Linked DNA regions of Homo sapiens: all the other regions are linked to region 2. The links come from fine-mapping of genetic effects on gene expression. A gene starts in region 2. Each other region holds a variant in brackets. All regions are shown on one strand. Distances are from middle to middle.

Evidence for each region. PIP is the estimated chance that this variant, and not a neighbour inherited with it, causes the effect.
Region 1: its variant is fine-mapped to the expression of SLC43A2 in thyroid (GTEx, PIP 0.96).
Region 3: its variant is fine-mapped to the expression of SLC43A2 in whole blood (TOPMed, PIP above 0.99).
Region 4: its variant is fine-mapped to the expression of SLC43A2 in whole blood (INTERVAL, PIP above 0.99).
Region 5: its variant is fine-mapped to the expression of SLC43A2 in whole blood (TOPMed, PIP above 0.99).

Annotation. Positions count from the first base shown.
Region 1 is chr17:1,602,715-1,608,983 of GRCh38, reverse strand. All of the region lies in intron 5 of SLC43A2 (solute carrier family 43 member 2), which reads left to right. It also overlaps the pseudogene RN7SL105P. Among named protein-coding and RNA genes, the nearest start is that of SLC43A2, 23 kb to the left of the region's middle. RefSeq lists an enhancer at 1,676-2,441. The variant G/A (reference allele first, on the strand shown) is at 3,170.
Region 2 is chr17:1,626,046-1,632,314 of GRCh38, reverse strand. It overlaps SLC43A2 (solute carrier family 43 member 2), which reads left to right and starts at 3,481. Exons shown (of 14, transcript NM_152346.3): 1 at 3,481-3,521; 2 at 4,395-4,600. The coding sequence starts at 4,441. RefSeq lists enhancers at 4,233-4,770, 4,771-5,308.
Region 3 is chr17:1,573,331-1,579,218 of GRCh38, reverse strand. SLC43A2 (solute carrier family 43 member 2) reads left to right here. Exons shown (of 14, transcript NM_152346.3): 12 at 896-969; 13 at 2,499-2,622; 14 at 3,454-5,888. The coding sequence ends at 3,615. Among named protein-coding and RNA genes, the nearest start is that of PITPNA, 13 kb to the right of the region's middle. RefSeq lists enhancers at 456-1,266, 1,267-2,078, 2,079-2,890, 2,891-3,703. The variant C/A (reference allele first, on the strand shown) is at 3,801.
Region 4 is chr17:1,565,696-1,571,832 of GRCh38, reverse strand. SLC43A2 (solute carrier family 43 member 2) reads left to right here. Exons shown (of 14, transcript NM_152346.3): 14 at 1-2,565. Among named protein-coding and RNA genes, the nearest start is that of PITPNA, 6.0 kb to the right of the region's middle. RefSeq lists enhancers at 1-408, 4,796-4,845. The variant C/G (reference allele first, on the strand shown) is at 1,549.
Region 5 is chr17:1,583,590-1,589,858 of GRCh38, reverse strand. It overlaps SLC43A2 (solute carrier family 43 member 2), which reads left to right. Exons shown (of 14, transcript NM_152346.3): 10 at 3,808-3,946. Among named protein-coding and RNA genes, the nearest start is that of PITPNA, 24 kb to the right of the region's middle. RefSeq lists enhancers at 1,498-2,044, 2,045-2,591, 2,592-3,137, 3,138-3,684, 3,685-4,230 and 1 more. The variant G/T (reference allele first, on the strand shown) is at 2,567.

The DNA of each region.
Region 1 (6,269 bases), 23 kb after region 2:
TTTCTACAGTGCTCTTGATTTTATTATTATTAGTATTTAGTGACTCGTAAGAGCTCTTTCAAATACAAAGACACTAGTGTTCTTTCCGAGTGAGCAGGAGATCTTACCCTGGGGTTTTCAGGTCTCTACATGGTCCATGAGTAAGCTTCAGGAGAGCCGTGCACACCCTTGAAATTCCATGCCAACAAAGCGTGTGTAGGTGCTGCTCAGCTGTGTCTTTCTGGAGGGGAGGGTCCATTACTTTCACTGGCCTCTGGCAGGTCTGTGTGAAGGCTAAAAACCACTGCGGTGGCCGGGTGCGGTGGCTCACACCTGTAATCCCAGCACTTTGGGAGGCCAAGGTGGGTGGATCACCTGAGGCCAGGAGTTCAAGACCAGCCTGGCCAACATGATGAAACCCAATCTGTACTAAACATGCAAAAATTAGCCTGGGATGGTGGCATGTTCCTGTAATTCCAGCTACTCGGGAGGCTGAGGTGGGAGAATTGCTTGAACCCGGGAGGCGGAGGTTGCAGTGAGCTGAGATCGCACCACTGCACTCCAGCCTGGGTGGCAGAGTGAGACTCCGTCTTAAAAAAAAAAACAAAACACACAAACCACTGTGGCAGGAGCGTTTCTATTCACTCTTTGCTCTCCCACTGGAGGCAAAAAGCTACACAGGCTAGAGAGTGACCAGGCAAGAGAGTCACCTGATCACCATTTGAAGCGTTTGGCTACCAGAGGTCTGTCTAAGGGAGGCTGTTGGTTTGTTCTTCAAGGTTTTCATTTTTTGATCTAGAGCAGGAGTCAGCAAACCGCCATTGCCAGGCCAAATCCAGACCACTGCCTGTTTTTGTAAACAAAACTTCATGGGGTAGAGCTGTGCCTGTTTGCTCCTGTCTGTGGCTGCTTTTGTGGTATCTCATCAGAGTCAACGCAGTCGTGACAGAGGCCATATGGCTTGTAAAGCCCAAAAGGTCTACTGTCTTAGCCAGGCACACTAGCTCACGCCTGTAACCCCAGCACTTTGGGAGGCTGAGGCGGGTGGATCACCTGAGCTCATGAGTTTGAGAGCAGGCTGGCCAACATGGTGAAACCCCGTCTCTACTAAAAATGCAAAAATTAGCCAGATGTGGTGGTGGGCGCCTGTAGTCCCCACGACTCAGGAGGCTGAGGCAGGAGAATTGCTTGAACCCGGGAGGCAGAGGTTGCAGTGAGCTGAGATTGTGCCACTGCACTCCAGCATGGGTGACAGAGCGAGACTCTGACTCAAAAAAAAAAAAGTCTATTGTCTGGCCCTTTATGGAAAAAGTTTGCCAACCCTTGGTCCAGAGGCCCCAGGAAGCTGCTACGTCACTGTTCCTCGTCTGAGGGCATGTGCTGACACCCACCATTCACACCCACACCCTCTGGTTGCATGGGCCAGCTCTCCTTCTAAGTCATCTCTTTCTGCCTCCCCCCAGGGTGGAGGGAGTTCCATGGGCATTCCCCTGCCCCCTGAGGCCTCTGATGAGGGCTCCAGTGCCTGCTCCTTGAGAACAGACCCCAAAAGGGAAATGAGGTCAGTGAGGACAGGGCTGAAGCAGTTAAGCAACACTCTTGGGCTGACTGGGGCTTCTGCTGAGCAGAGCCGAATCTCATTCTGATACAACCCAGGACTTCAGAAAGCAGAACTGTCGGGATCAGCTCCCAGAGACGCCAAGCTCAGGGCACAATGGCACTTTCTGTTTGTGTCTCCCACCCGTGTTCTAATTTGGGGGACAAAGGAGTCTCCAGGGTCGCCTTTAGGAATTTCTAACTCCAATCTTCAACAACCATGTTGGGGCTGTGGATAATAGCTCTGTGATAACCCAGGACTCTAGGGGACGGCGCTGTGGAAGCCTTAATTCGGGGACTTCCTGGGTCCCGGGGCCTTTGTGCTGCATGGGCTGTGGTCTAAATACAGATGACCAGGGGCTGCGAGCTGTTACCCCCACTGGTAGGAGAGGGGGCTCCAAGCGGGCACACGCCTTTTCCTTGTAGTCCAGAAGGAGATGGCCATGAGCCATCCTTCCAGAGCCCAAGAGGTCGGCACCCATGGTGGTATTTCCCTCCCAAGTGGAGGCTCCGAGGGGCAAGGGTGGCTGTCGCGTCAGGTAGGCTGCCCAGTAGCCAGTGCTGGCTCTCCCAGGGCCCTGCAGCACAGGGCCTGGGCCATCGCGTGCCATCCGTGGAGGGCGGACGCCAGGTCACTCCATGGGGGCAGAGCACTCCCCACGGTGTGGATCCTCAGCCTCCCCCGGGACATCTGGACGGCACGCTCAGTGTTTGTTCAGTGCCTCGCGTTTGTACAGCCCTTTGCACTCGCTTCATCGGCTGGAGCACAAACACGGCCGGCGGCTGAGGCCGCATCTTGGGGTCGCCACCCTCCAACCCGGAGCCTGGGTTGCTTAGAGATGGGAGCAGCTGTAGCCAAAATTGTGAACCTGCCATTTCCACTCCATTACTCTGACCCCTGTCCCCGTGGGTGGGATGGGGATTTCTCAGCAGAAGCCACACAGAAAAGCGGGTTTCAAAATGTTGCCAGGCTCCCCGATGAGACATTTCTCTGTGGATTTTCCCTTTTGATTCCTTCAAGTCTGACTTTAAACCTGAGGAAGGCATGATTTCATGGGAGGTGGGATCTGAGGGAAGTGAAGAGGATAAACATCCCTCTTCAGATCCTGGAGAGGAGGGCAGGATGGCAGATGCCCCCAGAGAGGGGACAGGAGTTTAGTGCCGTGGCTCAGTAGACCCCGCGTCTGCAGCCAGGAGAGGGTCCCACGGTGGCCCCCGGCCAGCTCTGGAGGGTCCAGGAGAGGGTCCCGCGGTGGCCCCCGGCCAGCTCTGGAGGGTCTAGGTGCCTGGTGAGCGGGACTTGCCAGTGCCCAGTGCCTGCTGTGCCTCCCCACCTTCCTCTCTTTCTGTCCTGTACCTTGGGGAAGCTCAGGCAGTCAGCTACTTGCCATTGGTTTGGGGAGAATTTGCCATCTGAGGGTTCTGCCTCATGAATTTGCTGCAGTATGTGACCACGTTCAGACGGAAAGGGCAGCGGTATTGGCAGGACTGGACCCGGCCGGGAAGGCACAGGAGGTGGCCGGGGGAGGGGAGCACACCCTTCCCCTCCCTTCAGCACTGAAGCAGAAAGGTGACCACAAGGACCTTGTCCCGG[G/A]CAGCATGTGCTTGGAGGTGCCCGGTTGTTGTGGGTAGGAAACAGCCCAGCCTGGCAGAGTCTACCTGTGCAGTCTGGTTCCGGGATCCCGGCCTGTGCAGGTTGTACAGAACTCTGGGTGTGTACTCCAGCCACTTGGGGACAAGGCTCCCTCTGGAGGGGACCCGAGGGCCAGAATGCCAGCCCCCACCCACCACCCAGCTCCCCAGCCCCCACCCACCTCCCAGCTCCGCAGCCCCCACCCACCACCCAGCTCCCCAGCCTCCTGCAGGCCAGGGAGGACTCGGGAGTCCGTGGATGTGGAAAGTCAGGGCCGGGGGTGCCACGGTTGCCCCTTGTTTCTGCCTGCCAGCAATGCCATGGCCTGCCCTGGGCCAAAAGGCACGTACGTCCGGCATCTTAGAGAAGCTCCCGCGCCCGCACTGTCCCAGGGCCTTGGCCCTGCAGGCACTCCTGTCCGGTGGTCATGCTCTATGGCCAGAATGCCAGGGGAGGGGCCGCCTGCAGCTGCTGTTTTCCCCTCTGGGAAGGTCACACAGTCCGGCCTGTTTATGCTGCAGCCAGGGGGCTGAAAGAGAGAGAGTCACGGGCTTCCCTGTGTGACTGAGGCTGCGTGGAGGCAGTGAGTGAACAGCCCGGGCTGGCAGGACAGGTTGACCCGCACGGAGGCAGAGGCGGCGAGGGGGCTGTGGGAAGCACCTGAGGGCGGGAAGAGGGGCTTGCACTCCCACCTGTGAGTGTGGTGGTGAGTCAGGAAACAGCTCCGGCTTCCTGCTTGGCAGCAAAGCTGGTCCTTCCCCTCCTGGGGTCCTTCCCCTCCGCCAGCCCTCGAGGCCCGCGCTAGGGCGCTCTGCTCAGCGCTCAGCCCTCACTCCGGCACCGCGGCTTCGAACAGCCATTATGCGCAGCTGAGACCGGTGGAGGCAGGGAAGCTGGGGACGGAGTGAGCGAGAGGGGGAATGTGGGGAGTGACCCAGATGTCAGGATGACCTACGGGAGTCCACAGGCAAATGCAAGCCCATCCGATGCTGTGGCGCTGGACCATGGGGAGGTCAGCCGAAGGCAACAGCAGGAGGTGAGGGCAGGGGGCAGATGGGTCTAAAAGGAGCTTCAGAAGGAATGTAAGCCATCTCTAGTTGGGGACTGGGCATTGTGGTATCCCCCTGTAGTCTCAGCTGCTCAGGAGGCTGAGGTGGGCAGATGAGTTGAGCCCAGGAGTTCTGCACAATAGCGTGCTGTGTTGATGAGATGTCTACACTAAGTTCAGCATCAGTGTGGTGACCTCCGGGGGGTGAGGGACCCCCAGGTTGCCTAAGGAGGGCTGAACCGGCCCAGGTCAGAAACAGAGCAGGTCAAAAGTGTCCTGCTGATCAGTAGAGGGATCATGCCTGTGAATAGCCACTGCGCTCCAGCCTGGGCAATACAGCATGACCTCATCTCCAAAAACAAATTTAAAAAAATGACCGGGCGCGGTGGCTCACGCCTGTCATCCCAGCACTTTGGGAGGCCGAGGCGGATGGATCACCTGAAGTCAGGAGTTCGAGACCAGCCTGGCCAACATGGCGAAACTCCATCTCTACTCAAAATACAAAAAAAAAATTAGCTGGGCATCGTGGCGTAGTGGCACATGCCTGTAATCCCAGCTACTCGGGAGGCTGAGGCAGGAGAATCGCTTGAACCAGGGAGGTGGAGCTTGAAGTGAGCTGAGATTGTGCTGCTGCACTGTAGCCTTGGCGACAGAGTGAGGCTCTGTCTCAAAAAATAAATAAGTAAATGAATGAAAAATAAACCTCTAGTTGAAGGGCGCAGATTGGATCTTAATAAGGCACATGTAAAAGCCGTGGGATCCAAACTGAAGTGTGTATTGGCCGGAGCCACAGGAGACTCCAGAGAGGCAGCGTGGCCTGGGGCCTACACACAGAGGCTTGGCCTGGCTTGAATCCCCAATCTGACCATTACTAGCTTGGGGGAGTCCCTTGACTTTTCTAATCTTTAAGTTTTTGTTTTGTTTTGTTTTGTTTTGTTTTTTGAGGCAGAGTTTCACTCTTGTTGCCCAGACTGGAGTGCAATGGCGCGATCTCAACTCACTGCCACCTCTGCCTCCTGGGTTCAAGCGATTCTCCTGCCTCAGCCTGCCGAGTAGCTGGGATTACAGGTGCACGCCACCACGCCTGGCTAATTTTTTGTATTTTTAGTAGAGATGGGGTTTCACCGTATTGGCCAGGCTGGTCTCGAACTCCTGACCTCAGGTGATCCCCTGCCTCGGCCTCCCAAAGTGCTGGGATTACAGGTGTGAGCCACCGCGCCCGGCCTCATGGTGTTTTTTGACCAATAAAAGTTTTTAAATAGGTGGTCAAAAGTGTGTTTCAGCTTTTAGGGAGTACCTAGCATTTGTGTCAAATGAAACCTCTCTGAAGAGAACATGAAGGATGACCTTGACCAGTGAAACCCAAAGCATAAACATCCTGACAGCAGTCAATGTGTGGTCACAACAGAATAACAAGGACAGGAGAAGAAAGGCCATCTCTGTGGACACTAATTATTTATTTAAAGGGGAATACTAATTTGTGTTTTATCCTGTAGTCGGCTTCCTTTTCTTCCTCCCAGAGCTGTGGTTCCTGCCAGAGGACACTTCCCTCGTTGGCTATGCCCAGGAGCAGCTTGACCAGAAGATTTTCCCTGTTATGAAGTCATAACACATATCATAATAGTAACTATTGTTAATACCTACCCTATTTATGATCTTTAAAACCCTCGGCCGGGCGCAGTGGCTCACGCCTGTAATCCCAGCACTTTGGGAGGCTGAGGCGGGTGGATCACCTGAGGTCAGGAGTTCGAGACCAGCCTGGCCAACATGGTGAAACCCTGTCTCTACTAAAAATACAAAAATTAGCCGGGTGTGGTGGCGGGTGCCTGTAATCCCAGCTACTTGGGAGGCTGAGGCAGGAGAATCGCATGAACCCGGGAGGTGGAGGTTGCGGTGAGCCGAGATTGCACCATTGCACTCCAGCCTGGGCAATAAGAGCGAAACTCCATCTCAAAAAAAAAAAAAAAAACTGAAAAAACAAAACACCATGAATTAAGAAGTTAAATGACAAAC
Region 2 (6,269 bases):
TTCAAGCCATTCTTGTGCCTCAGCCTCCTGAGTAGCTGGAATTACAGGCGCCCACCACCATGCCCAGCTAATTTTTGTACTTTTTGTAGAGATGGGGTTTTGCCATGTTGGCCAGGCTGGTCTCGAACTCCTGACCTCAGGTGATCCACCCACCTCAGCCTCCCAAAGTGCTGGGATTCCAGGTGTGAGCCACCGCACCTGGCCATTTGCCCCTTTTCAGGAGTTCATGTTTTCATTCCACAAACTCATATTGTGCAACTGCTTTGTGCTTGCTTCTCTATCAAGGGCTGGTCATACAAAGTTGAATAAGACACCGTCCTGCCCCCAAAGAGTTCATAGTCAATTAGAGAGGAAGGCAAACAGACGAATAGCTAATTATAAAACAATGCCAGCAGTGGACAAATAAAGTGAACAGTATTAATGGGGAGTGGTTAGGGAAGGCTTCCCAGCGGAGGTGCCGTCCAAAATGAGGCTATGTCGCGAGCTAGAGGAGAGAGAACAGCAGGTGCAGAAACCACAGGCAATTCCATGTGACTGGAGCATCGGGGACCAGGCAGGTCAGATGTCCTTCAGAGGGAGGGAGAGGGAGGAGCCTGTGTGGGTCAAATTGGGGAACTGGAACTTTTAAATTTTGTTTATTTTTTTGAGACGGAGTCTCGCTTTGTTGCCCAGGCTGGAGTACAGTGGCACAATCTCTGCTCACCGCAACCTCTGCCTCCCCAGCTCAAGCAATTCTCCTGCCTCAGCCTCCCAGGTAGCTGGGATTACAGGCGTGTGCCACATCACCCAGATCTTTTTTTTTTTTTTTCTTTTCAGACAAAGTTTCGCTCTTGTTGCCCAGGCTGGAGTGCAGTGGCACGATCTCGGCTCACTTCAACTTCCGCCTCCCAGGTTCAAGTGATTCTCCTGCCTCAGCCTCCAGAGTAGCCGGGATTACAGGTGTGCGCCACCACACCCAGCTAATTTTTTGTTTCTTTAGTAGAGACAGGGTTTCACCATCTTGGCCAGACTGGTATCGTACTCCTGATCTTGTGATCTGCCCACCTCGGCCTCCCAAAGTGCTGGGATTACAGGCGTGAGCCACCGCGCCCAGCCATTTTTGTATTTTTAGTAGAGACAGGGTTTCACCATGTTGGCCAGGCTGGTCTTTAACTCCTGACCTCAAGTGATCTGCCCGCCTCAGCCTCCCGAAGTGCTGGTATTACAGGTGTGAGCCACCGTGCCCAGCCAGGAACTGGAACTTTATCCTGTTTTACAAATAATAGTTTCTGAAGGATTTTGGCAGAAGTCACATTTACATTTCCCTTAGTGCCCTGGGATGAGATGGGGGCTGGATTTGAGGAACTGAAATCTGAAGGTGGCTCAACAACAGTAGTTGCGGGCCTAAGGGCACAGATGGACCGATTAGGTAAATATGTAGGAGATACAGCTGTATCAGTTTGATGGGGATGCGGTGAGGGAGAGGCAGAATCACAGCGACTGCCTAACAAATGTCTGATGAAAGGATGGTTCTCAGCAGGGCACTGTGAGTCATGCCTGTAATCCCTGCACTTTGGGAGGCTGAGGTGGGAGGATCACTTGAGCCCAAGACTTCAAGACCAGCCTGGGCAACAGGGCAAGACCCTATCTGTACAAAAAATACAAAAATTAGCCAAGTGTGGTAGCATGCACCTGTGGTCCCAGCTACTTGGGAGGCTGAGGCAGGAGGATCACCTAAGCCCAGGAGGTCGAGGCTGCAGTGAGCTATGATCATGCCACCACACTCCAGCAGTCTGGGTGCCTGAGATCCTGTCTCAAAAAAAAAAAAAAAAAAAGAAAAAGAAAAAAGACAGGGTTCTTGGTATCTAACTTCAGTAGACAGTAGTAGTATGGTTATCTGAGAGAAAATGTGGAGGACAGTTCTGGGGGATATTTGAGGCATGTTTGAGCCCTGCAGCGCCGTCAGGCTGCTCAAAGAGGAGGGAAGGGTGAAGAAAGAGATTTTTCAGATGGCAGTTGAAACCTTGGGAGTGGGAAGGGTTCCACAGGGTGAGGAACCGGGTAGGCTACCAGCTGGAGCCGCCCCCCAGCAGGCTGACAGCTCCAAGCGTTGTCTGGGGGAGGTTGCCCTCGCCAGGTGGCCCGGGCGGATTCTAGACAGTAGGGGGCACACTCGGACTGGGGCAGGTGGAGCAAGAGGCGTTTGGGGCTCCCACAGCCCTGGGGTGGTGGTGGGGTTTTATTTTTGGTTTTTATTTTGGTAGAGATGGTTCTCGCCATGCTGCCCAGGCTGGTCTCAAACTCCTGTCCCCAAGTGGCCCTCCGACCTTAGCCTCCCAAACCGCTGGGATTCCAGACGTGGACACCGCGCGGCAGCCCTGGGGTGCTAAGCCAGCCCCCCGGAGCGAGCCAGGGTGACCAAGGCGATTCTGGGGCAGTCAGAGGGTCTTCCCGGGTCGGGTTAGTGCCTCGAATCCGGGGGACGAAGACGGGGAGCTGAGCTTTCGGAGCCCGGGCTTATCAGACGGGGACCCGGAGCCCCCTCGAACCCTCCCTAGCTTGTACCAGCTGGCGGACGTGGCCCGTAGCATCGCCCTGCAGAGGGGACCTTCCCTGAAAGGGACGGGGAACGGGGTGAAGGTGGCCAGCGCGGGCAGGGAGCACCCAGATGACGATCAAGGGTGGAGGGTCCCCGGAGGACCGAGCAGTGCGTGAACACGGGCGGAGAAAGGTCAGTCTGATGGGGGGAGCTCAGGAGACCCCATCCTAGGACGGGACAGACCAGCCCCAAATCCCCTTGCAGATTTCCAAGGGCCAACTTCCAGGGACCGGGCAGACGCCACCGGGGAGAGGGGAAGGGGTCGGTGCATCAGCGGGGGGCGCCACGGCTGGACCGGGTCCGGGATCCCAGGCCCCGAATACGCCGGGACGGGAACCACCGGGGCGGGGGAGCGAGGAACCAGGACCCAAAGCCCGAGGCGGCGGGGACGGCGGCGCTGCGTGGGGAGGAGGCGGGGTGGGGATTCGAGAGTGGAACCACCGTGCGGAGCCGGCGCATCTGGGCGTGGTGACCCGCGCGCAGGGGGCAGCTGGGGACGGCGGGGCGGCCGCGGGAGAGCCCGGCTGGGGGCGCTGGTGGCCCGGCGGCTTCTGGGGGGAGTCCGCTGGGGGCCGGGACGCGGAGCCGGAGCCCCAGCCTCGCAGGGTCAGGCCGCTGGAGAGGCCGCGGGGCGATGTCGCCGGGGATTCCCGGCCGCGCTGTGACTCGGGTTGAAGGCTGCAAAGCCGAGGCCCGGCCCGCAGCGCCCAGGCCCCTCCCGTCCCCCATCTCTCTTGTTTGTCTCCGAGTCCGGCCGGAACCGGCTTCTGCTCGCGGCGGGGCGGGCGGGGGGCTGGCTGCTGATTGGTCGACGCCTGTTTCCAGCCCCGCTCAGCCAATCAGCGGGCGGCAGTGTTTTCTTCTTGGGGTCGGAATAAAAGGGCTGGAATAAAAGAGGGCAGAAAAGGCGCCGGGCGGGCCCGACACACGCCGGAGGAGCCGGGTGAGCTGCAGCAGGGAGGGGATCGCGGCCGGGGCGAGGGCGCGGGGGCAGAAGCGGCCGCCGAAGGGGCGTAGGGAGAAAACGTGGGAACGAGGAGAGAGATGGAGCGATGAGGGGCCGCCAGGGAAGAGATGACGAACAGATGCGGGCTGGGGAATGGAGGCGCGGGGGTCCGAGGCCATGGAAACGGGCGAGTTGCCGGGGGAACGCCCGAGATGGGGGTCGCGCGGCTGGCTCGCGCCACCGGTTTGAACCGGCTCCTCGTCTCCCACGCTGGGTTCGCGTGGCCGCAGCGCCTAGCGACCTAGACGGCGGCCAATGGCGCGGCAGTTCCTGCGCCGTCCGGCCAATGAGCGCGCCGGGGCGGGCCGTTCCGTAGGTCTGGGCGCTGATCTTGTGGTTGAAGAAACCAGCTCTGGGGAAGGGTCTCGGGCGCGGGCGGGAGGGCACCTGTCAGGGTCCCTGGGAGAGGCAGCCCTCGGATCTGCCCCTGCCCACCTCACGCTGCGTTCCATGCTGGCCCCAGGCGATGTCAGTCCTGCTGCAGGCCAGGACTAGTTCCACGGCCCTGAGCATGCGTTAGCCCCTTCTTGCCTCCATGCCTCAGTTTACCTCGGAGTGAGCTGCGGGAGACGTCTCCCTGCCTGGCCGGGGCGGCTCTGTCGTAGCGGAGGGCAGCGGTACGAGCCGGCCGCGGGCTCGGGGTGTCCCAGGTCCGGGCAGGGCTGGGGTTCGCTTCCTCTGCTGCGCGCACCGGCCGCCGCGGCCGGGGAGGGGTGGCAATCCCGAGCCCTGCGGCAGCGGTCGGGGCTGCTGGGGGCGGCCGCAGGGGCTGGGCAAGGGCCGGCCGCTGACGCCGAGTTCTGTGCGCAGGTGGTGCAGAGCCGGAGCCGGAGCCGGAGCCGCGCCGCGCCGCACCATGGCGCCCACCCTGGCCACTGCCCATCGGCGCCGCTGGTGGATGGCCTGCACGGCCGTGCTGGAGAACCTCCTCTTCTCGGCAGTCCTCCTGGGCTGGGGCTCGCTGCTCATCATGCTCAAGTCAGAGGGCTTTTACTCCTACCTGTGTACCGAGCCAGGTGAGACAAGCGCCTGGGGTTGCGGGGGGCTCCTGGAGCTGGGGCTTTGGGAGGGGGCGGGATGGGGGCGAAGACCTAGCGAGCCACAGCACCGCATTGCCCAGTGCCTCTAGGGTATCAGAAGGCCCATCTGATCCTCACCCAGCCCTGCCGGGTACTTGTCATTGCCCCTGTTTTGTGGACGAAGACATCGAGGCTCAGAGCGATCTGTCTTGCGCAAGGCCGCAGAGCCTGGGCCTGCCATCCACCCAGAACCCCACCTGCTGTCCAGGGTGTTCCTTCCACCCGCTACGAACAGTGCTGGACTGCTCTCCTCTCCTCCCAGCCCTGGAACATAGCTTGGCTGGTAGTAAACATGTTGCTGTCTGCTTGTGAGAAAGAGGAACTCCAGATTAAGGGGCTGGGGTGCAGCAGGAGAGGAAGTGGCCTTGCCTCCACCCCAGGGAGGGCTCATCTAGAATCTAGACGTTCCTCAGGCCATTGTGGAGTCTCCTAAGTGCTTGCTGGACACAATTTCTTGTCTATTTTTGCTGCCTTATGATTCTCCAAAGGACATTTCCCCCACGGGCTCTGAGGACATCTCCGTGGCTTTCCAACCCCATGGGGATGAAGGGGAAGAGAAGAAAGGAACGTTTATGGAAATGATGCTAGGGTTGTTCTCTCCTCTTTGCCTTGTCACTGGAATTGCTGAAGGCAGGCTGAGGATGCTTCTCTACATGACATCTGCACCACCCAACACACACTTACCTTCACACCTTCATACCCTGTTGGAGGGTCCTGATGACTACAGGGCAGTAAATTCAGCCCCACAGGAGGGCCACAGCAGCCCCCAGCCTCTAGCCTCCTACCCTCCTTCTTAGGCAACCTTGACAGGAAATTTTCCCTCTGCCTTCTCCTTGATCCCAACGGTAGCTGCATAATAGCTGAGCTCACATAATCCCTGTCGCCAGTGCTAGAGTGCCCTTAGATGGAGGTAGCCCAGGTTTGACTTCCTGAATCCCCAGCAGCAGGCCTTTTCTTTCTAGAGCTCTTTGCAGGAAGAGAAAGCTTTGGACCAGCTCATGCTGGGTGTAATCCTTTGTGGAAGCCTCCCTGTTTCCCTTCTCTGATCTGCCCCGGAGATTCCTGTGTGTCCCAGTCTCTAGGGAGGGAGGCTTAGCTGGAGAGGTTCAGGGCAGGAGAAAGCAGGAGAATGCAGAGGCCGCGGGGAGAGGACAGAAAGTATATCATTTATAACTAACCTTTAGCCTTTAGCCACTCAAAAATATTTCCTAATAGCCTAAGGGTTCTTGGCAGGTCTTTCCCCACATCAGCAAGAAATCTTGGGAGTTGGGAAGAGTCAGACCTTGTTCCCTGAACAAGCTTTCTGCTTTGGCCAAGAGTTGTTAGGAGATTAATGCCTGTCCCCGAAAGGCACAGGTTGGAGTGTTTACTTCTTCCTCTCCTTTCCTCTCTCCCCCCTTAGAGATCGTGACCCTTCCTGCTTGCCTCCCTGGTGGGCTCTTTCAGGCTGGACACAGGGTTTAAAAAAAAAAAAAAAAAGCAGAAAAAAAGTCATCGTCCCCAGAGAAAGCTTTTAGTGTCTCACCCAGACCAGAGAACTGTTGTGGGCAGGTGTTTTTTTGTGTGTTTTTTTTTTAACCCACCATGATGTCGGAAGGTCAGATTC
Region 3 (5,888 bases), 53 kb after region 2:
AAAGTGCTGGGACTACAGGTGTGAGCCACCATTCTCGGCTTATAATTTAATTATTATTATTATTATTATTTTTTTTTTTTGAGACAGAGTCTCACTTTGTCACCAGGCTGGAGTGCAATGCCGTGATCTCAGCTCACTGCAACCTCCACCTCTTGGTTCAAGCGATTCTCCTGCCTCAACTTCCCAAGCAGCTGAGATTACAGGTGCCCACCACCACGCCCAGCTAATTTTTTGTATTTTTAGTAAAGACAGGGTTTCGCCATGTTGGCCAGGCTGGTTTCGAACTCCTGACCTCAGGTGATCCACCTCCTCGGCCTCCCAAAGCACTGGGATTACGGGCGTGAGCCACCTTGCCCAGCCTATAATTTAATTTTTAATAATGACTCGGTTAGGCTGGGCGCAGTGGCTCATGCCTGTAATCCCATCATTTTGGGAGGCTGAGGCGGGTGGATCACAACGTCATGAGTTTGAGACCAGCCGGGCCAACATGGTGAAACCCCATCTCTGCTTAAAAAATACAAAAATTAGCCGGGCATGGTGGCGTGGGCCTGTAATCCTAGCTACTCCGAAGGCTGAGGCAGGAGAATTGCTTGAATCCAGGAGGCGAAGCTTGCAGTGAGCCAAGATCACGCCACTGCACTCCAGCCTGGGCGACAAAGCAAGACTTCTTCTCAAACAAAACAAAAAACAAAACAAACAAACAAACAAAAAATGACTGTGTTAACGACTGGCTTGCAAAATTTCTGAAAATTCACAATTGGCTCCGGAGGATGGGGTTGATCCAACTCCAGGCTGACACTGCCCCTGGGGTGAGGGCCCCCAGGAATTGGAGGGCGGGGGCTGAGGGGACGGTCCCTTAAGGCCTTATGCCCACAGTCGCCTTTTCCTCCCCCAGATCCTCTCCTTCATCCTGCACACAATCGTGCGAGGATTCATCCACTCCGCTGTCGGGGGCCTGTACGCTGCCGTGTAAGTCCTGGAAGCCGCAGGTGGCCTGGTGGGCGAGGGTGTGGGAATGGCCGGGGGGAGGTTGCTGGTGGGACTGAGACTCTGAGGCAGGGTCAGCCTGTCCCAGAAGGGCTCATCTTCCTGCTTCAGGGGACAGGTACCAGGGTTTCTGCTGGGTGTTTCAGGGAAAGGCCATACCTCGTGGGAAGCAGGTCAGTGGGCAGACAGTTGGGTGCTCACAAGCCTTGGCATTCAACACGAAGTCAGTTCCCCCAGCCAGGGTCAGGCACCTGTGCAGCTCATTATGGCCTCAGGGGCCACTACAGCCGAGTCCTGGGGCTGGCCCTGGCTGCTCACTGGGAAGGATGGGTAGGTTCTGGCTGCCTGAAGCTAAATGCGGAAGTTCCAGTTGCCCTCATCACGGGCAGCAACATGGGTGACTGAGTCCAGAATACACCAGACGGGCCCATCCAGAGCCTCAGTGCGCCCAGCTCTGGCCATAGCTTTCTCCAGCCCTGGCTAAAATGAAACCTGTATCTTTTTCCAAGAAGCCCCAGAAACATAAAAGGAACCACAGTGGTTCCTTCTTCTCTGGCTCAGGCCTTGACCCAAAAACTGAAACTCAAACATCATCATCCACAGTCTCTGATGTGGGACCAGCTCATGTGTTGCTGGGATTCCTTTCCCACCTCTGGGCCAGCAGAGCCTGACATGTGCTAAGATTTAGCCCGGAACTCTCTCCCAATTCCCGCAACAGCCCCTGGGGTAATCCCAGCTCCGCTTGCCCTCCGCCTGCCCCTCCCCAGGCCTGGAGGAAGCTGTGGCTGTCCTGGCAGGGTCTGAGGGAGGGGGGCGGGATCTGTGGTGCTGAGTTTCCGCGATTACTCAATGCTTCTCTGGACGAGGGCACTGCAGAGCCAAGCCCAGCCTCCACACTCCTCTCTGGGCCTGTTTCCCAAACCGCAGGTCCCCGCTGGCACCACGCTTTCCACTCGGCTCAGCCAGACACCCACAGGCCCTGGGCACAGCTGAGTGGGGTGGGCCCTCCCCAGAGTCTGGGGCCTGGAGCTGGTCCAAAGAGAAACACTTTGCAGAACCACCCAGCAGGGCCGGGCGCGGTGGCTCACGCCTGTAATCCCAGAACTTTGGGAGGCCGAGGCAGGCAGATCACAAGGTCAGGAGTTTGAGACCAGCCTGGCCAACGTAGTGAAACCCCGTCTCTACTAAAAATACAAAAAATTAGCCAGATGTGGTGGCGGGCGCCTGTAATCCCAGCTACTAGGGAGGCTGAGGCAGGAGAATTGTTTGGACTGGGGAGGCGGAGGTTGCAGTGAGCCGAGATCGTGTCATTGCACTCCAGCCCAGGCGACAGTGCAAGACTCCATCTTAAAAAAAAAAAAAAAAAAACAGAACTGCCCAGCAGGAAGGAATCCGAGGGCTGGCACCCCACCCTTCTCTGGCACCAACGGTGCAGCCCGGGGTCACCAGACACCTGGGGCCAAGCAAAGCCCAGGAGGCAGGATGGCTGTGAGCTGTCGCTTGCCCTGCAGGTACCCCTCCACCCAGTTCGGCAGCCTCACGGGACTGCAGTCTCTGATCAGCGCGCTCTTCGCCCTTCTGCAGCAGCCGCTGTTTCTGGCCATGATGGGTCCTCTCCAGGGAGACCCTCTGTGGGTAAGAGGGGTCGGGGGATGGTGGGTCATGGGCGCCTGCCCCCTTCTGCTAACTGCGAGCTGCAAGGTCCCCCTCGGGGGCTTCAGGGCCCCGAGGACATGTGGGAGCGTTGGTTAGGATTGGTTAAGAGTCCCTTTGTGAATGGTGGCTAGGCAGGAAAAGGAACATGTCCTCTCTGGACCTGATTTGGGGAGAAATAGAACAGAGTTCCTGGGCCGGGCGCGGTGGCTCACACCTGTAATCCCAGCACTTTGAGAGGCCGAGGCGGGAGCATCACTTGAGGTCAGGAGTTCAAGACCAGCCTGGCCAACATGGTGAAACCAGGTCTCTACTAAAAATACAAAAATTAGCCAGGTGTGGTGGCAGGTGCCTGTAATCCCAGATACTCGGGAGGCTGAGACAGGAGAATCACTTGAACCCGGGAGGCGGAGATTGCAGTGAGCTGAGATTGCGCCACTGCACTCCAGCCTGAATGACGACAGCGCGAGACTTCGTCTCAAAAAAAAAAAAAAAAAAAAAAAAAGAACACAGTTCCTGTCCCCGCCCCACCTCCGAGGGCCAGATTTCCTCACCAGGTACCAGGAACTTGTTCCAAGCCCAGAGGTTCAGATCAGCCCGTGTTTCCTGGGGGCCCAGGCCCTGAGGGTGGCCACATGGCCTGTGAAGAGTTGGGAACCGGGACGCTGGCATATGGGACCTCGTGGGCCTTCCTGTTTCGTTCCCCCTTCCACCCCGTGACCTTCTCCCCTTTCCCAAACCCGAGTGGAGGGCGGGTCTGCAGCCTCGGCGCACCACCACGCCCTGTGATGCGCGGCCTCCCTGCCTCCCCAGGTGAACGTGGGGCTGCTCCTTCTCAGCCTGCTGGGCTTCTGCCTCCCGCTCTACCTGATCTGCTACCGGCGCCAGCTGGAGCGGCAGCTGCAGCAGAGGCAGGAGGATGACAAACTCTTCCTCAAAATCAACGGCTCGTCCAACCAGGAGGCCTTCGTGTAGTGGCTGCCGCCTCGGAACTGCGGTCTCCTGCCTGTGCTTCAGTGACTGACCCCTGTCCTGCCCCTCCAGAGTACCCCACGCACCCCCAGGACCTTCGCCGTCTCCGTGCCAGCGTTCACGCTCCCTCCCGGGGCCCTGCCTCGGAGCTCTGTGGTGGAAGGACGGGAGAGGGCCCCGGACACGCG[C/A]GTTTTCTCCTGCCGAACGCAGGGGCTGCCCTGACTTTGCTCTGCCGCCCCCCGGGGACCCGGGGCCTGGGGTCTCTGTGGTGCCTGCAGCAGGAGCCAGGAACGCCCGGCAGGCAGGCGCTCTCCCGCCAGTGTCTGGATTCTGCCTCTTGCCAAAGCAGAGGGGGCTGCCATCCCCTGCCTGCCACCTGCCCCTCGGCTGCATGCCCACAGCCGTACCTGCCTGAGGACAAAGGCTTGCACTGTCTCGCCCGCGCCTGGCCCCCACCCCCTCCCCGGCCAGCCTGAGGCTGCCTGAGGAAGGAAGGACCCGCTTCCTGTTGTCGGTGCTAATTCCTTTGTAATTCCAGCCCCCTGTCGCCTGTCCAGGGCCTGCCCACCCGTTGGAGGCCGGTGGAGAAGCCCCACCTGGCTTATGCCCTGGAGAGGGTTTAGCGGGCTGGGTGGACCCCTCGCCTCCTCCCCGAGGGCCAATGCCGCGGACACGTTTTCACTGTCACCCTCGTTCTGTCTGCCACCTGAAGGGAATTTGAGGACCGCCGCCAGGGCACCCCGTACATACACACAGCTGCTTTTGTGGAGGTGGACGAAAGGCTGTGGCCGGCAGACGTGGAGGTCCAGGCCGGGGTGGGGACGTGGGTGGGTCCGAGGTGTGTGTGGGGTCGGGGTGGGCTCTAGGAGTTAGCCCTTATCCCCACTGACCAGGCGGGAGCCGCCAGGCCTGCAGCTGGGCCAGTGCCCAGGAGCCATCCTGGCGTGGGGCCAGGAGCTTGTCCAAGGCCACAGGCCCACAGCACCCCCTGCCGGCGGGCTCCGTGGGGCCCTGGAGCTGATGACGGGGGAGGCCCGTCCGCCTGGCCCACCAACCCGCCCACCTTGACTGCCCCCAGAAGTGTGTCTTGAGACCTCCTGGGCGTGCTTAGAGGGGTGAGTTGTGTTTGGATTTTTAGTTATTTTCTCTTCAGTTTTATTAGACTTCTTTTTTATAAAGCAATAAATCCATTTTCCTCCGGGTAAGGGATGCCCCTTCTGGCATATCAGTTAATAGCTGCATGTGCCTATTTTGAGCTTGAGAAGAAAAGGCAGGACAAGATTCTCTGCCACCGACCAGCTCCAGCCGTGCCCAGCTGCTCTTCGTCTCTCTGGGGGACTGCTGACTCGGGAGGGACAGTGGGCCAGGAAAAGACCTTCCTCCCCAACCCCCAAACAAACTGGGCTTGTGCAGACATCTTAGAAGTGTGAGCCACCCTCCTCTACCGATTTTCCCAGCCAAACAGGCGAATCCTGGTCCCTTTCCATCCCTACACCCTTCCACAACCCTGAAGATTCCCGCTGGGTTCTTCTGCAGGCTCAGAGCAGTTCAGGATGTGGGCGGCAGGGAGGGGGATGAAAGGAGAAGAGGAAAGGGCAGGTCCAGGCCACATTCAAGCTCCACATTAACAGCTTGGGCGCCTGGAACACATATCTCCTAGGCTTTATTTCACTCAAATATTTAAAAAAAGACTGGGCGTGGTGGCTCACGCCTATAATCCCAGCACTTTGGGAGGCCAAGGCAGGAGGCTCACCTGAGGTCAGGAGTTCGAGACCATCCTGACCAACATGGAGAAACCCCGTCTGTACTAAAAATAAACATTAATCGGGCGTGGTGGCGTGCGCCTGTAATCCCAACTACTCGGGAGCCTGAGGCAGGAGAATCGCTTGAACCGGGGAGACGGAGATTGCCGTGAGTCGAGATCGCACCATTGCACTCCAGCCTGGGCAACAGAGCGAGGCTCCGTCTCAAAAAGAAAAAAAAAAAGAGAACGAGATAAACATGCCCACTCCTGAGAACACTCGTTTTGTGATGTTAGTGGTTATTCTGATTTTCAAGAAAGTATTATAGTCAAGTTTGGGAAAGGCTGAGTTAAAAGTCAAGCCTGTTTCCTTACAGCCAGCACTGACAGCACTTTGCCAACGCTCATGAGCTCCGTGGCTCCTCAGGAGCGGGTGTGCTGTGCTGCCGAGGAACGGCTCGAACCATCAGAGCCACCAGCCTCCACGTGCGGCTCCATGATCACCCCCAGCAGAGGCTCCCGGGTGCTGGTTCCA
Region 4 (6,137 bases), 60 kb after region 2:
CCTTCTCCAAACCCTCTAGGCCTCTGTCTGCAGCTGCTGCTGCCTGGACCTATACACAAGGTCCCACCCCTCACCGGGGCCAAAGACGTGGTTGCAGGCCCTGGTGGATCCTTTCTGTTTTGCTCCATCCCCGTCCCCTCTTGCACCCAGCATCGTCCTGGTCAGAACTTCCGTTTAAACCTTCCTTGCCTGCCGTGCACTCCGAGGGGGGCGTCACTTTGCCATAGGCCCCAGGGCTGAAAATGGCGGGACATCCAGTATTGGGCTCACGTGCATAAGACTGTCCCAGACAGCAGCACAATCACGTTCAGCCAAGTGGAGTTTCCGACGCACTTGTGTGGCAGCCGCGTGAATGTGAGCCGATATGCAGCTGGGAGGGGTTGTGGGCCTCCTGCGGTGAGGGGCTCCTGCCAGGAGCTCTGAGAAGCCTCCACAGAATCAGCCGTCGGGCTCCTTCAGCAGCAGCTCCCCTTATCTGTGCCAACGACTGGGGGCCTAACTCAAGGGTGCCAGCCCGTCTTCCGCCAATACAGACTGTGGGATTCTGAGAGTTAGGAGCCTGGGGTCCCCTGGGGTGGGGTGGTCAGGGTGAGCAGGTGGGCTCTGTGAGCCTGTTTCCCCATGCCCTGACTCACCCCAATCCCTGGGTGAGGACAGAGCTCCTGAAGGCCACTGAAGGAGGTGCAGCACACTCCACCTGGGTGGCCTTCCGCAGCTCAGCCCTCTTCCTGCCAGCAGGAAGCCTCTGCCTGTGCTCCTTAAGTTAGCCATCCTCACCCCCTCCGGGCAGCTCTGAGACTGAGCCAGGGCCACTAGCAGCACCCAGACCTCGACCCTTCTCAGACCGAGGCGCCACCACCCCAGGCCGAGGAGGCAAGGAGGGAAGACCAAAGTCTAGAGGACTGTCTTGGTGGCCCTGGGCGAGTCTTGAACTTTGGTGCCATCATCTGCAAAAGGGAGGAAAGAATGCCTGCGTGGTGCAGCTACGTGGATACGCAGTGAAGACCCGCATGGTGGGACGCCTGGCACTTAACAATGGTAGCATTTGGCCGGGCGCGGTGGCTCACGCCTGTAATCCCAGCACTTTGGGAGGCCGAGGCGGGCGGATCACGAGGTCAGGAGATCAAGACCATCCCGGCTAAAACGGTGAAACCCCGTCTCTACTAAAAATACAAAAAATTAGCCGGGCGTAGTGGCGGGCGCCTGTAGTCCCAGCTACTTGGGAGGCTGAGGCAGGAGAATGGTGTGAACCCGGGAGGCGGAGCTTGCAGTGAGCCGAGATCCCGCCACTGCACTCCAGCCTGGGCGACAGAGCGAGACTCCGTCTCAAAAAAAAAAAAAAAAACAATGGTAGCATCGTTTTCAGTGCCCAGGAAGAAGGCAGCTGGGACAGGGAAAGGGCCACCACACCACACCCAAGCCCATACAACAGGAGAGCCACTTTCAGCAGCTCTGAGCAGGACAGACTTGTGGCCAAGTCAAGAAAGTAAGGTCTGGTCCCAGCGAGGTGGCTCATCCCTGTAATCCCAGTGCTTTGGGAGGCCGAAG[C/G]GGGGGCGGGGTGGATCACTTGAGGTCAGGGGTTTGAGACCAGCCTGACCAACATGGTGAAACCTCAACTCTACTAAAAATACAAAAATTAGGGCCGGGCGCAGTGGCTCACGCCTGTAATCCCAGCACTTTGGGAGGCTGAGGCGGGCGGATCACAAGGTCAGGAGATCGAGACCAACGTGGCTAACACAGTGAAACCCCATCTCTACTAAAAATACGAAAAAAAAAAATTAGCTGGGCGTGGTGGTGGGTACCTGTAGTCCCAGCTACTTGGGAGGCTGAGGCAGGAGAATGGCATGAACCCGGGAGGTGAAGCTTGCAGTGAGCCGAGATTGTGCCACTGCACTCCAGCCTGGGCGACAGAGCAAGACTCCGTCTCAAAAAAAAAAAAAAAAAAAAAAAAAGTAAGGTCTGTATCTGCTGACCCCACCCTTCTCCGAAGCCCTCTCCGAGCAAAGCCTTAAGAAACTCTTCTCTCGTTCACTTTTCTTTTGTGGCTTTCACGTTTTGGTAAGACTTGGCCAAATAGCTGCTCGAGATAATCAATCACTGGTGGACAAGTTTCTGCTGAGTGAGGTTTCTGCTGAGTGGGGCGACTCAAGGCACGGTCACGTAGGCAGCACCTGTACACCGCATCCTCATACAGCTGCGGGACCGTGCCTCTGACTGTGTGCGTGTGTGTTTATCTAAGTGTGAGATGCATCCGGGCATGTCAGGGTGTGTACATGTTGGGAAGACTGTGTAGATTTCTTGTGTGCCGCTCTCTGAATGGAGGAGAGGGGAAGCGTCTTACCTCGCTGAATCCCTTTCCATTGCTGGAAAGAACACCTGGGCAGGAGCGGCCCCAAGACCCCGCCCAGGCCCTCGGAAGGGAGCCTGAAGGGTTAATCCGTACCCTGTATTAACCAGGGTCAACCCAGCGGCTGACCCGCCTCTTCCCTGCTCCTTTGCCGTTTCTAGCACCTGGCTTACTTCCTGGCACACAGTGAGCACTCAATAAATGTATGCTGAGAATGACTGCGAGCGGCTTCCTCCTTGGCTCCTGTGTCTCTTTCTCCCTAGATCACACATTTCTCGCCTCTTGTCTGGTGCCCAGGTTCCCTGTCCCTTGACTGGGATGCGTTCCTGACCCCCACCCCTGCCAGGCTGCATTTGCTGGTTGATCTGCATTGCCATTTGAAGGAGTGTGGGAGGGCAGAGCAACAGGCCTTTTGGGTGGGAAGACCAAGGCTGCTGGTGAATTCTGCTTATAAAGGAAGCCCCCTCGGATCACCTGAAGTCAGGAGTTCGAGACTAGCCTGACCAACATGGTGAAACCCTGTCTCTTCTAAAAATACAAAAAGTAGCCAGGCGTGGTGGCGAGCATTTCCAGCACTTTGGGAGGCCGAGGCGGGCAGATCACGAGGTCAGGAGATCGAGACCATCCTGGCTAACATGGTGAAACCCTGTCTCTACTAAAACTACAAAAAATGTCCAGGTGCGGTGGCTCACGCCTGTAATCCCAGCACTTTGGAAGGCCGAGGCGGGCAGATCACGAGCTCAGGAGATCAAGACAATCCTGGCTAACACGGTGAAACCCCGTCTCTACTAAAAATACAAAAAAGTAGCCGGGCGTGGTGACGGGTGCCTGTACTCCCAGCTACTCGGGAGGCTGAGGCAGGAGAATGGCGTGAACCCGGGAGGCGGAGCTTGCAGTGAGCGGAGATTATACCACTGCGCTCCAGCCTGGGCAACAGAGCGAGACTCCGTCTCAAAAAAAAAAAAAGAAAAGAAAGAAAAAAACATTCTTTGAAGGCTGGCGCATGCTCTGCCTTGGTCCCCACTCTACCCCCAGTGCCTAGAATCGTGCCTGGCATGGAATAGCTGCTCAATAAATATTTGGGGGACGAAGTTTAAAAAGAGAGAGAGACAGAAATACCACAGAAAAGAAGCTAAAATAGACTAAGAGGCTGGGAGAAGAGCAGAGCGGAAGATGGAAACAGTGAAATACAGTCTCCCCAGGACACCCAGAGATGGGTTACAGGGCTGGCTATAACCGACGCAGTACCAAGGGTCAACCACCCAGGGGAAACCATGCTGAGAACTGGAACCGTGAGATCCACAGACACAATGATGAAAGAGTGGCCGGGTGCCGTGGCTCATGCCTGTAATCCTGGCACTTTGGGAGGCTGAGGCAGGTGGATCGCTGGAGCCTAGGAGTTGGAGACCAGCCTGGCCAACATGGTGAAACCCCATCTTTACTAAAAGGGCAAAAAATTATCCGGGCGTGGTGGCGGGCACCTGTAATCCCAGTTACTCGGGAGGCTGAGGCAAGAGAATTGCTTGAACCTGGAAGGCAGAGTTTGCAGTGGGCTGAGATGGCACCATTGCACTCCAGCCCGGGCAACAAGAGTGAAACTCCATCTCAAAAAAAAAAAAAGAAAAAACAAAACAAAACAAAAAGACGAAGGAGTGAGAGAGAGAAATAGACTGTGATAGAACACAGCAGACACAGGGGAAAGGAGATAGCCGCAAAGAGACGATGAAACATGGGGTCTTGTGGTTCACATCTATAATCCCAGCAATTCGGGAGGCCCAGCCAGGAGGATCGTTTGAGCCCAGGAGTTTGAAACCAGCCTGGGCAACATAATGAGAGCTTGTCTCTTAAAAAAAAAAAAAAAAAAAAAAATTGGCCAGGCGCAGTGGCTCACGCCTGTAATCCCAGCACTTTGGGAGGCTGAGGCGAGCAGATCACGAGGTCAGGAGATCGAGACCATCCTGGCTAACATGGTGAAACCCCGTCTCTACTAAAAATACAAAAATTAGCCGGGCGTGGTGGCGGGCTCCTGTAATCCCAGCTACTCGGGAGGCTGAAGCAGGAGAATCGCTTGAGCCCCGAGAGATGGAGCTTGCAGTGAGCCGAGATCATGCCACTGCACTCCAGCCTGGGCGACAGAGCAACACTCTGTCTCAAAAAAGAGAAGAAAAACAAAACAAGGGCTGGGCGCGGTGGCTTACACCTGTAATCCCAGCACTTTGGGAGGCCGAGGCAGGCGGATCACGAGGTCAGGAGATCGAGACCATCCTGGCCAACACGGTGAAATCCCGTCTCTACTAAAAATGCAAAAATTAGCCAGGCGTGGTGGCATGCGCCTGTAATCCCAGCTACTCGGGTGGCTGAGGCAGGAGAATAGCTTGAACAAGGGAGTCGGAGCTTGCAGTGAGCCGAGATCGCCACTGCACTCGAGCCTGGTGACACAGCAAGATTCTGTCTCAAAAAATAATAATAAAAAAAAAAAAAAAAACAAAGACTGAGACCACAGGAAGTGGGAGAGAGGGGAAGGGAAAGGCCCAAAGAGGAGAGACAGGAAGCGAGGTAAAGGTGAGGCAGAAATGCAGAGAGCCCAGAGAAGTGAGACGACAGTCATAAAGGGAGACAGAGATGTGAAGGGAGGGACAGAGAACAGAGAGAGAATGAGACAGGGTGACAGAGGTCCAGAGAGAGACAGCCTGGGAGAGCCAGAGAGACACAAGTGAGAGACAGAGAGATACGAAAGGGACAGGAGAAACAGGAAGAGAGAGGGAGCTTGAGAAACTGAGAGAGGACGGACAGAGGGAGCAAGGCAAAGAGAGAGAGATCCATGGAAAGCTGCTCGTTTCTTTCCTCTGTTAAGCCTGGAGCATGCAGAAATGCAGAAGTAGGTTTTTTGTTTTGTTTTGTTTTTGATACAGAGTCTTGCTCTATCTCGGCTCACTGCAACCTCTGCCTCACAGGTTCAAATGATTCTTCTGCCTCAGCCTCCCGAGGAGCTGGGACTACTGGCGCACACCTCCACGCCTGGCTAATTTGTGTATTTTTAGTAGAAACGGGGTTTCACCATGTTGGCCAGGCTGGTCTCGAACTCCTGATCTCAGGTGATCCACACACCTCGGCCTCCCAAAGTGCTGGGATTACAGGTGTGCGGCACCGTGACCAGCCTAGAGGTAGTTTTGAGGGGCAGGGGTGTCCATCCCTCCTTGTTCACAACGCCCTTTTCCCAATAATTAATAATAATAATAATAATAATAATAATAAGGAAATATGCCACTCACTGCAGAAAGCTGCTTCATGTCCATTGCCTCATCCAAGGAGGCTCAGCAGCCCCATGACGCAGGTACCGGCATGTTCCCTATTTCCCAAGTGAAGAAACTGAGATACAGAGAGGTTAAGTCACTTGCACAAGGTCACAGAGGTAGGAAGTGGAGGCCTGGGACTCCAAGGCAGCGGAAGTCTGTGTCCTGGGTGGGGCTGTTGGCTCACAGTGTGGCACAGCTGGAGAGTGGTGTGACCCCTGCGTCTAACCCGTATGGACATCTGCAGCAAACTTGCTATTGAAAAAGATGTAAAAAACGTAACTCAAAATAAAGTGTGAAAAAAAAAAATACATGGACCTTGCCTGGATACTGAACTTCTCTAAAGGAAACTATAGCATTTTTTAGATTAGCAGGGAAATTAGAATATGAACTGGGGATGAGATAGCATCAGGAAATCATTATTAATTTTGTTAAGTATGACAATGGCATTATGCATTTGTAAGAAATGTGCATATTTCTAGAATGTGCACTGTAAC
Region 5 (6,269 bases), 42 kb after region 2:
TCATGAGGTCAGGAGTTCAAGACCAGCCTGGCCAAGATTGTGAAACCCCCATCTCTACTAAAAATACAAAAAATTAGCCAGGCGTGGTGGTGGGCCCCTGTAATCCCTGCTACTTGGAAGGCTGAAGCAGAGAATTGCTTGAACCCAGGAGGTGGAGGTTGCAGTGAGCCGAGATTGCGCCACTGCACTCCAGCCTGGGCGACAGAGTGCGACTCCATCTCAAAAGAAAAAAAAATATCTGTGGAACACACTTTGGGGAACCCTAATCTATCATGTCTCTTTCTTTCTTGTTTTTTTGAGGCAGGGTCTCTTTCTGCGTTGCTTAGGCTGGAGTGCAGTGATGTGAACGCTGCAGCCTTGACCTCTTAGGGCTCCCCAGGTGCGCGCCACCACACCCAGCTAATTTTTAAATTCTTTGCAGAGATAGGGTCTTGCTGTGTTGCCCAGGTTGGTGTCGAACTCCTGGGCTCAAGGGATCCTCCCCTCTTGGCCTCCCAAAGTGCTGGGATTACAGGCGTAAACCTCCACACCCAGCCTGATAAACATTCAGCCCTGGAGTGGCGGAAACCCCAAAGTGTGCAGAGAGAGCTGGTCCCTGGCCCTCGAAAGGCTCATCTCCCTGCTGCTGAGTCAGCGTCTTTTACTCAAGCTGTCTGAGAAATCTTTTGCTGCCCAGGAGGAATGTTTCCAACTGTTTCGTATGTTCAAAAAGTCAATTTCAAGAAGTAGAGGAAGCCAGGCCAGGAAGGTTGGTCTGTGGCAGACGAGGCACTGGTTTTCCCCCTCCTCCTTCTGTGACCCGTTACACCCAACACCCATAGCCCTAGCTCCGGCCGAGAGGCAGCTGCAGGGTCCGGGTCACTTTCCGCACACTCGTGAGCTTTGCGGCTCCGCAGGAGGGGGTGTGCCGTGCTGCTGAGGAACGGCTCAAAGCACCAGAGCCATCGCCTCCGCGTACGGCCCCGCGACCACCCGCGGCAGAGGCTCCCGGGTGCTGGTTCCGAATGGAGACTCCAGGCCTTGCCGCTGACCGGTGACTCTGCTGCCTCCCAGCGTTTGAGACCCGCCATCAAACAGGAGTTGCGGATTCAGGGAAACCCTAACTAGCCAGGGTGCTGGCAGCTGGGAAAAGGCCGCCTTTTTTTTTTTTTTTTTTTTTTTGAGTTGGGGTCTTGCTCTGCCACCCAGGCTGGAGTGCAGTGGTGCAACTGATAGCTCACCACGGCCTCCGACTCCTGAGCTCAAGGGATCCTCCCACCTCGGCCTCCTAAGTATCTGGGACTACAGGTGTGTGCCACCATGCCTGGCTAATTTGTTTTTTTTTTTTTTCCATAAAGACAAGGTCTTGCTATTTTTCCCAGGCTGGTCTCAAACTCCTGGGCTCAAGCAGTTCTCCCACCTCAGCCTCCCAAAGTGCTGAGATTATAGGCATGAGCCACAATGCCCAGCCAAAAATACAGTCTTTTTTTTTTGACATGGATTTTCGCTCTTGTCACCCGGGCTGGAGCACAGTGGCATGAGCTCGGCTCACTGCAACCTCCGCCTCTCGGGTTCAAGCGATTGTTCTGCCTCAGCCTCCCAAGTAGCTGGGGTTACAGGCACCTGCCACCATGCCCAGCTAATTTTTGTATTTTTAGTAGAGACGGAGTTTCACCATGTCTCCAACTCCTGACTTCAAGTGATCCACGTGCCTCAGCCTCCCAAAGTGCTGAGATTACAGGCGTGAGCCACGATGCCCAGCCAAAAAGCCAGTCTTGAGATGGGGAAGACGTGGCCCATGCTGTCCTCAGCAGTGCCCAGTCCCAGCCAAAGTGGGCACTGCTGCCTCACTCTCCCACCCACCCTCAGGGTGTGGCACTTACTGGGAAGAAGCAGGCATTGAGAAACAGAATTAAGGGGGGAAAACAGTCCAGGGCCAACAGTGCTTGGGGATTGAGGCCTGAAAATGGGAGCAGGGTACAGAGGCTGTGGCTGGCCAGATGGGTCGGGTGCCCCCTGCACCCCCACCCCCTAGTCAGGGGCCACCTGTCCTACCCTCCCTTTGTAAGAGTTGACAGGTGACATGTTTTCCTATTGTTGTCCTTGACTTGATAACAATCTAGGAGTTAAATAGATACTATCATCTGTTTACGTCATCATTTATGATAGATACTATCATCATATACACCTGAAAAACGAGGCCTGGAGTGATGGAGGAGCTTGTTCAAGGTCAGAGCCAGCACTCACATATGGGTCTTAAGACACTGGAGCAGCCAAGGGCCTCTAGACCAGGACATTCCACTCGGAGCAGCAGCTCAGGGGCCACCAGGCCTCTGTGGCAGGGGGGCCATGGCCCAAGGAAGGGGAGCAGGCCCAGGCATGGTCCCCGTTTCTTGGAGTGGAAGGGAGACCAGCTCTGGCCATCTGGAGGAGACCCATGGTGTCAGATGCCTTGGCTGGGCATCAGGGGCAGGTTCTTTGACCTTTCCCTCTCTCTGAGCACAGCAGGAGGTAGATGTGACAGAGCCGCTTCCCGCAGGCAGTGTGGTGACAGGGACCCTGATTGCACCAGGTCTTCCGCATGCCC[G/T]CCACTTCCCCATCACGCTACCCGCCAACGTCACAGGCCTGATTCACCAGTCCGCCTGTGACCCGGCACCAGCAGACAGGAGAATGTCAGCAGGGGCCCGGGCTGGGCATTGTCCCAAGTCCACTTCCAGAGGCCTGGCTGCAGCTCTGCCTCCCCTGAGCGCCCCGAGTCACGCTTAGTGGGAAATGCAGTGCGGGAAACGCAGTGTGGGAAATGCAGTGCGTGCTGGGCATGGAGTGAGCCTGCCTCCTCTCCCATCTCTCTGTAGCACTGAGATTTCTGCCACTAACCTCTCTTCTTTCTGCTTTTTCACTTTTGCTTTCTTGATGCAGTGATGGCCACGGGTAAGCGGGGGGTGGGGGGGATTGTCAGGGAATGCTGTGATGTCCCCTCCCAGCCAGTCTCTGTTCAACCCAGAAGCTCCTCACCTCAAGCTCCAGACATGCCTCCTGGCTAGAGCCGTGGGGGTAAAACTGGGGCAATCAACATTCCTCGTCTGCTTCCCTGGAAAATCCACTGTCATTTTAAGTCTTTGAATATGGAAGCCCTGACATCAGAGCCCCGTGAGCGGTGCCTTTCTGGGATATTTCTTTTTTTTTTGAGATGGAGTCTTGCTCTGTTGCCCAGGGTGGAGTGCAGAGGCATGATCTTGGCTCACTGCAACCTTCACCTCCCGGGTTCAAGTGATTCTCCTTGTAGCCTCCTGAGTAGCTGGGGTTACAGGTGCCTGCCACCACGCCCAGCTAGTTTTTGTATTTTTAGTAGAGACGGGGTTTCACTGTGTTGGTCAGTCTGGTCTCGAACTCCTGACCTCGTGATCCGCCCACCTCGGGCTCCCAAAGTGCTGGGATTACAGGCATGAGCCACCGCGCCCAGCCGTTCTGGGCTATTTCTAGAGACAGAAACTAACGGCCCGTCACTTAGCCTCCGTCACAGGAGTTCCCAAGTTATAGCGACTTCCTGGAGCTCTGGGAAGGCCATTGTGACACTCTGGGTTTCATTAGCTGTTTCTTAGAAACAAGCAGGGGATTTGGAACCGAGAAGAAGGTGACCTGCCCCGTGCTCCATCCTCAACTTCAGAGTTAAGGTCTCCGGGCTCCTCGCAAGACCCATAGTGACAGGGGGTTCTGGGGCAGACCCCAGAAGAGCCTGTGGGGACCAGCCCCTTCCCAGCTGGTGCCCAGTCCCTGCTCCAGGGCTGTCTGCCAGGCGTCCCCATGACGCAGCGCCTTCCTCCACAGTTGGCCTCTACACCTCCATCTTCGGCGTGCTCCAGCTGCTGTGCCTGCTGACGGCCCCCGTCATTGGCTACATCATGGACTGGAGGCTGAAGGAGTGTGAAGACGCCTCCGAGGAGCCCGAGGAGAAAGACGCCAACCAGTGCGTAGGCAGGGCCGGTGCCCCGGCTCCCAGCCCGCAGCCCCTGCAGAAAGACCCCAGAGCTGCATGTCAGGCACAGGGTGGGTGGGACAGAGGGAGAGAGCAATGCACTCCAGCTGCTCCCGGAGCCCTTAGAGAGACTCACTCATTCAGCTCAGCATGCGTTTCAACTGCTCCCCTCTTTATGGAAATTGTTTGGAATGCAATGGAAATGCTAAAGTTTGAGGCCAGGTGCGGTGACTCATGCCTGTAATCCCAGCACTTTGAAAGGCTGGGGTAGGAAGATCACTTGAGGCCAGGAGTTGGAGACCAGCCTGGGAAACATGGCCAGCCCCCACTCCCCGTCTCTACAAAAAATTTAAAAATTGGCCAGGGAGGGTGGTTCATGCCTATAATACCAACACTTTGGAAGGTTGAGGTGAGTGAATTGCTTGAGCCCAGGAGTTAGTGACCAGCCTGGCCAATGTGGTAAAACCCGGTCTCTACTAAAAATACAAAAAATTAGCCAGGTGCGGTGGCGGCGCGCGCCTGTAATCCCAGCTACTCAGGAGGCTGAGGCGCGAGAATTGCTTGAACCCGGGAGGTGGAGGTTGCAGTGAGCCGAGATCACGCCATTGCACTTCCAGCCTGGGCAACAGAGCAAGACTGTCTCAAAAAGAAAAAACAATAAAGAAGAAGCATTGAGTAAGAAGGAAGAAAAAGAGACACAGGTGAAAGTGTACAGACAATGGCTAGCAGACCATTTTGCTCCTAAGACCACCCTCCCTCCACCCCTTGGCAGTGGCTACACCATCTTAAAGCCTCCCAAAGTACTGGGATTAACAGGTATGAGGCACCGCGCCCGGCTCAGATGGTGACTTTCATTCATTGCATTCAATCATGCAGCCCACCAACCCTTTGTTATCTGCCTGCAAGGTTTATTCCGGTCAGTTTGAGTAGTGAGTTGCTATAAACATATTATGTGTTAATAGAGTTGTTCATGATTGTGAAGATTAAACAAGGTACTGGAGTCCTACTTTATGTAAGGGATGGGCTCCAAGATCAGAGGATGAGTTAAACGCTGTTTTCTTTTTTCTTTTTCTTTTTTTTTTTTGAGACGGAGTCTCGCTCTGTCGCCCAGGCTGGAGTGCAGTGGCTCTATCTCGGCTCACTGCAACCTCCGCCTCCCGGGTTCACACCATTCTCCTGCCTCAGGCTTCCAAGTATCTGGGACTACAGGCGCCCGCCACCACGCCCGGCTAATTTTTTTAATATATATTTTTAGTAGAGACAGGGGTTTCACAGTGTTAGACAAGATGGTCTTGATCTCCTGATCTTGTGATCCGCTTGCCTCGGCCTCCCAGAGTGCTGGGATTACAGGCATAAGCCACCACGCCCAGCCAAACGCTGTTTTCCATGGCTCCACACCTTAATATAATAAGCTACGGTTTATTGCCTGAGGCCCTCCACCGAGGACTCCATGCACAGTATCTCAGTGAAGACTCCCAGCACCCTGGCGAAGTGGGGACCAGTGTTATACCCATTTTACAGATGAGGGAGCTGAGGCTGGGACTTGCAGTAGTTTGCCTAGGGCCGCACAGTTAGGAAGTGGTGGGCCTGGGACTCCCTGCACATCTGTGAGCACCTGGGGTCCGTTCTTGGATCATCCAGGGTGTCTGCGTGGGTGTGAGACTGGGATCGGTAATCGTTCATTCACGAGAGATAATTGCAGAGGGTGCTTGGCCGGGCGCGGTGGCTCACACCTGTAATCCCAGCACTTTGGGAGGCCAAGGCGGGTGGATCACAAGGTCAGAAGATCGAGACCATCCTGGCTAACATGGTGAAACCCTGTCTCTACAAAAACGCAAAAATTAGCCGGGTAAGGTGGCGCGTGCCTGTAGTCCCAGCTACTCGGGAGGCTGAGGCAGGAGAATCGCTTGAACCCAGGAGGCAGAGGTGGCAATGAGCCGAGATCACACCACTGCACTCCAGCCCGGGTGACAGAGCGAGACTCCATCTCAAAAAAAAACCCAAAGAACAAAAAAACAAAACAAAACAAAACAAAAAACAGTGCTGTGCTATCTAGGTCAGGTCCTGCAGCCAAGAGGTTATTTGTGTCCACTCCAGTTCCATCTGCTGCCTGCTCATTTCCCCTTTACCCTCTCCTGTCCCCACAAGGGGAAACCCATTCACTCCCCTATTTGGCTTGTATCTGGCTTCTTATCAGCGTCCTGCAAGATTTGGGTGAACTTGAAGCCAGTGGTGAAGTGAGGCTTTGCCATGTGCCAGCTCAGGCACACGCTGCTACTTCTCTCCCCGTCGTCTTAGCTCAGCCTTCACAGAG